Regions from separate parts of the Homo sapiens genome. Here region 1 is linked to region 2. The links come from fine-mapping of genetic effects on gene expression. Tissue or cell type: skeletal muscle. Region 2 holds a variant in brackets; the other region holds the start of a gene. All regions are shown on one strand. Distances are from middle to middle.

Region 1 (2,915 bases), 220 kb before region 2:
CGTTATAAGGTTTTGCACCAGCTCTGCATAAGTGTACTTTATCCAGACTAGTTTATATCCTGCGTGGTTAATATTTGAATTATGTTATGTAAGAAATTCCAGATGTAAGTGTGTATGTAGTTTAAAGCACCAATGCTCTAAGTTGCTCCTTTTATCTTTTGAAATAGTGAGAATATTAAAACATCAATACATCAGGTAGAAGAAATTAGATTATCAAAGGTTCTTTTTTAATCTGAGAATTACAATGAAACCACCAAAAGAACATGTTCTAGTTATTTGGACACACGTACATTTAACCTATGATTTCCTACAAGTCAAGAACAAACTTGACCAGTAGTTGGATTGGATTTACTTTAGTACTACACCTATCTGGCTTTCTGACAAAATACTGATAGGTATTTAGGATCTTCATGTATTTTGAACAATCTGCTGTTGACATATTAATAACATTGTTTGGAATGATTCCTGAAGTATGATGCTTGCAACATTCCTGCAGCACCAAAAAGTACCTATTGTTTCTGAAAGCAAAGCAGCTTAAGTTTTATCCTACTTTCTAGGTTTTAAATATTGGAGAATCATTTTTTTCTTGAAAAAAAGGTAAATATGCTTATTTAATTGATGGCTGCATTCATTAGTAGAATCAGTGGTTTACAAATACATCTGAAAACATAGCTGCTTCCAGCTCAGAAATTTTGCAATAAAAAAAAAATCCATGTTTGAATTTTGTGGCATGCACAGGACACTTAACTGGCTTTTAAACGTTTTTCCAGCGTGATTCGCCCTGTCCTGCTCTGTTCCTTTCAGCTTAGGTCCATCGTAGGCTCTGCCTGGCTGTTTGCTGACATTGCCAACCGAGAGGGGCAAGGAAGTGTGTTCAGAGGACAAGAGCAAAGGCAGTTTCAATGTAAGGAAATGAGGGAAACAGACCTAACAGCTCTGTGACTATACTTGAGAGTAAAGAGCCTTGTAGTCTCCTTTCCTTCCTTTGCTTATCCTGGTGAGTTTAATCAAAAACAAACAAAACGCTCTTGTGAAATATAGTCAATAAAGTCAAAGTTTAGCTGGCTCTACGTAACTACAAAGAAAAAAATCATCGCAATTTAAAAAAATGTAACTTTCATTAACGAGCGCGCCGGAAATCTCAGGTATCAAAGACGCATTAACCCTGGAGCGTCCCCCGCGCGCCGCAGCCGGACGGAGGCAGCCGCGGCGAACAGACGTTCTTTCTCCTCCATGCAGTTACACAAAAGGAGGGCTACGGAAACTAAAAGTTTCGGGGCCTCTGGCTCGGTGCGTGGAGAAAAGAGAAAACCTGGAGACGGGGTGGGTGAAAGACGCATCCCGGGCGCCTCTCCGAAGTCCAGGCCGGGAGCAAGCTCCTGGGCCTAGAGGGGAGGGGGCCCCGAGCCGCTGGTCATCCCCCTGCGCTCAGCCTCGGAGCGCCGCGCTTCGCGGCGCTCTCCCAAATACTCTTCACCCACTCCAGAAATAAAATAAATGTTTTTAAAGTGCATGTGTGTGGACAGGATGGAGAGCGCGCGCCGGCGGAGCGCGCGGAGGACCCAGCGCGCAGTGAGTGGAGTTTGGGGGTGGGCTAGGGGTTAGCGGTTGAATGGGTGTGTTAATGGGGGGAGCTGGAGGCAGAGCTCGGGGACCTGGGGGTAGGGGGAGCGCGAACCGACTGGGAGGGGAGAGAAGGGGAGGGGCGCGAGCTGGCGCAGGCCGCCTCCGGGGCGCGTTCCACGGCCGTGCGCGCGCGTCCCTCGCCGCCACCGCCGCCCGGACAGCCCTGCGGCCGCCCCGCCGGCGGAGCCGGGGCCGGCCTGGTCCTCGGGCGGCTGCTTGGCCACCGCCACCGCCGTCCGAAGGGCTCGAGCCCGTAAGTATCCCCTTTCGCTCCTCCTCCCCGCCGCTTGGGCGCACAGCCGCAGCAGCTGCTCAAATGGAGTGGAAAACGGCCATTGGGCGACAATGAGTTATAGATTATCTGCTCCACGTTTTGTACTTAGCTGCCTGTAATCTTCTTTTGAGTTTGCCCGAGCCCCTTGCTGGAAAACTCAGGAGGGAGAGATTTGTCCTTTGACGCTGTACACGCTAGTATGTTTATATGATTAGCCCAACTGGCGGGGAGGGCGGATTTGGGGGAAGGAGGAGGAGGAGGCTGGAGGTGACTCCAGTTCAGACCTCGCGGAGAGTCTGTGTCAGGACTTCGCATTCCCCCGTCTCTCTCTCTCTCCCTCTCGCTCCCTCTCACTCTCTCTCCGCTCACACACACGCAGAGGTGCTGGGGCGAAATCGGGAGCTTACCAGAGAATTCCTTGGGATTGTTGGGGGGCATCTCCCCTCCGCTGCTGTGTGTGGCGTGGCTCTTCCCGGCTACTCCTTGCTTCCCCGAGCCCGAGTCTGCGCCGCCAGCCTTCCTTGGGGCAGCGGCCACCGCTCAGCCCCGGCCGGGAGATCCGAAATGTGAGGAGGGGTCGCCGCCGCCTCCCGCCCCAGGCCGCAGGGTCGGCGCGAGGGATGCTATTCCGGCCGGGCGCTCGGGGGGCTGAGGGGCTTCGCCTGACAAACTGAGTTGGCCTCGCGCCCCCGGCGCCCTCCCGCCCGTCGCTTCGAAGGGACTCCCAAGTCTGCGCACCTCTGTCAGGCTTTTGCTTCCACCACCCCTTTCGCTCTGATTCCCGATTTTTTTTTCCTAAGGGAGCGTGCGGTCTGGGGGTGTGTGCGTGTGTGTGAAAGACCTCTCTCGAAGAGCGGCGTGTGGGAAACTGCGGGAAAATGTTGACTTAACCCCAGGAGCCGCCCGGCGCTGGCTGCTCGGCTGGAGGCGGCGGCGGCCGAGCAGGAGGACGCGCCGAGCTGCGGCGCCGTGTCCGGCCGGGGAGCTGCGGCGCTGCCTCCCGCGCGGACTCGGC
Region 2 (2,915 bases):
GACTCCAAACAGTATGGAAAGTGGAGCAGGAGAAAGAAAAATACATTAAATACAGATTTTTACATTAAATATACATTCTATAGAGATCAATTTTTTCGTAAGATTTTTTTTGCTTATGTCATATATGGTTATTCAGAAAATAGGCAGAAATAAGCCAAAAAAGAAAAGAAATTGATATAAATCTGCCTGGGTATGGCAGCATCTTAGGTCTCAGTGACAACAGAGAAGCCCCAGAGCATGAGTTGAGTTGATGTTACCCTGCTGTGCTGAGACCCAGCTCCGTGGTGGGAGGAGCAGAATCTAGCCATTGCTGTAGTCACTCCAGCTAGACAGCGTGGCAAATGAGCAGAACTTGGGTAATGCAGAAACCAAACTGGTGAGTTTTATAATTAAAAAAAAAAAAAAGACAATAATTCTATAGCACATTTAAGGATTAAAAGATATAATGTTTCTAAAGTGCTTATCATAGGGCCTTGTACAAACTAATAATTGGAAGCCAAAAATTAATCAGGTGATAATATAGCTTGTTAAATGTACACAGGATTTTGCACTTTCACTATCCATGTTCTTTTATTAGATCCCTGAGCAGTAGGAAGGGCAGCTCTCAGTCCTATTTTACTGGTAAGAAAATAGAGGCATCAGAGGCACGAAATTACCTTCCCAGGCCACTCAGACCTGGGTGGTCAAACGGGAAGGTCCAGAAAGAGAGGCTGGGTTTCCCATTACCAATAGGTTCCGTTCTTTTTCTATTACACTACTTTAATGTTTAAGTCACCATAACATTTTCCAGTTATTTAATTGAGAAACAAAAGAGCTAGATAAGCAAAAAATGAAAAACAAAAACAAACAAAACAACTCCTCCCAAACTCCAAAGACCAAAGACAAAAATAAAAAACCCAACAACAAAATAAAACAAAAAAACAGAACCAACATGACTGCTATGCCAACATTTCCTATTTTACTCAAAACCTAGACTTTTGGTAGCCATAAGGCACCAGGAGCTGAACTCTCCTAAAAAGAAAGAATTCATTGATTCCTCTTATAGCTTGAAGAACAGTTGAACTATCAATTCGTATCTGATATATAAGGTTGATGTGTCTGAATAGATTAATAAAATAAATATTGTGGAAAAGTAAAATTCAGATTTACTCTCCAGTCAGTTTTTCATGAAAAAGATTAAACAGAAATCAGTAACTACTTTTTTTGAGCAACTAAACAAATGAAAATCTTGGGATCTGACAAAAAGATTTGATAAGAATTCTGGTACTATGGATATTTCTATAGAGATCAATTTTTTCATAAATTTTTTTTGCTTATGTCATATGCGGTTATACAGAAAATAGGCAGAAATAAGCCAAAAAAGAAAAGAAATTGATATAAATCTCAATAGCTAGAATTAAACACCTCTAAATCAATTTTGTCTCCTCCCCACCTTCCTTCTTTTCTCTTTGTTCTCTTCCCCCTTCCTCCCCTTCATTCCGCCCTCTAGCTCTTCCTCTTTCCCCCTTTTCTCTTCCCCAAATGAAAATCTGTTTTTAACTGGCTTTTTATACTCAACATTATAGATAAGATAATATTTTGAATTTAGGCAAAAATTGCATTTTTATAAATTTCTACTGCTTTCGGAATTTTGGCTAGTAATTCTCAGAACATTTCTAAATAGAAGATTACGACTTACCAGTTGTACAACCTA[C/T]ATTTAGGGCTTGTTTTGCCCAAGGTCACATAATCTGATATCCTAAGAACATGGTTGAGTTGGCTCATACAGTGGGAATCATCAGCTCAGATGACAGCACCTCATCTGCACTGCTCAGGGAGTGACACAGAAGTACTGGCTGGCTGTAGTCTCATACCATTAGGAATTACCCCAGGGATTTGTATTCTTTGAAGATTAAATGTTCATTTGTCCAATCACAGTATTGTAAAGTTGCAGGTATGTTGTCTTCCAAATTTCAGAGGTATTGAGACTACTCCTAAAATCTATTGAACATGCTCATAAAAAAAAATCACAACCTCAGAAGATTTTGTCAGCAGAAACCATCAACCCTGAAGAAAAGAAATGATTTAAGAAAAATCCCCTGATTTAAAAAGTGACCCCTAGAATAAGTTTGGAGTAATACATTATCTACTTTGTTTTTATAACTGTGCCATTCTGTCCACGATCTGTGTGGACAAGCAGCATCAAGAGAGCAGCTCTTTCATTGCAAAGGTGCAGAGGTGTAATTTATGACTCCTTTGCAGACACACTGCGGACCTGGACATCATTTCACTTTCAGCTACTAGCATGCAGGAAAAGCAAATGAAAAGTATTAATGTGATACATCATGCCTTTGGAAATTGGGAAAATAATTAAATTCCTTGCTGATTCCCATTAACACAGTTTGCCATTTGCTATAACAATCCAGCCCCGACACACACCTTGGAGTGATTACAAAAGACACAGTGAAGAACCCCAAAACTTGAGGCAAAAATTTCCTAAGGTGTGACCTGGGTGTGCTATGAGTAGCCCAGCAATATTTTTGATGGCTCGCACCAAAGACCACTTAATGGTTGCAAACTGCAAATATGAATTGCATTTGAATTTTGTCTAATCAATTCAATATATCAATCAGCCATATTGTTAAAAAAAGAAATTTGGTTGAACAATTTTGTCAATTCCGTCAAAATGATCAAACCAGTTATAAATATAACCATGATCAGGGGCTTGTTTCTTCAGGCTCTTGTGCAGTTTCTGTTGGGGAAAGCCAATTCAAGAAGCATTTATCAAGTGCCTACTATGTGTCAAGGCACACAGTAGCACTACTTGTAGTAGAAGTGTGTATATAACACATTATCTTTCCTCAAGGAACTTTCAATTAATATTTAACAGAGTTATTACAAAATAGTTGTGAAGAATACATTTCAAGATAAGTCCCAGA

Direction of the effects. Alleles are on the strand shown, and positions count from the first base shown. SD is a standard deviation of normalised expression in the study named.
As copies of C replace T in region 2, the expression in skeletal muscle of the gene that starts at base 1,745 in region 1 goes down (moderate effect, 0.53 SD a copy in GTEx).

Evidence for each region.
Region 1: it holds the start of ADGRL2, and the variant in region 2 is fine-mapped to the expression of ADGRL2 in skeletal muscle (GTEx, PIP above 0.99).

Annotation. Positions count from the first base shown.
Region 1 is chr1:81,799,190-81,802,104 of GRCh38, forward strand. It overlaps ADGRL2 (adhesion G protein-coupled receptor L2), which reads left to right and starts at 1,745. Exons shown (of 24, transcript NM_001366006.2): 1 at 1,745-1,879.
Region 2 is chr1:82,016,754-82,019,668 of GRCh38, forward strand. No RefSeq gene overlaps it. Among named protein-coding and RNA genes, the nearest start is that of ADGRL2, 220 kb to the left of the region's middle. The variant C/T (reference allele first, on the strand shown) is at 1,694.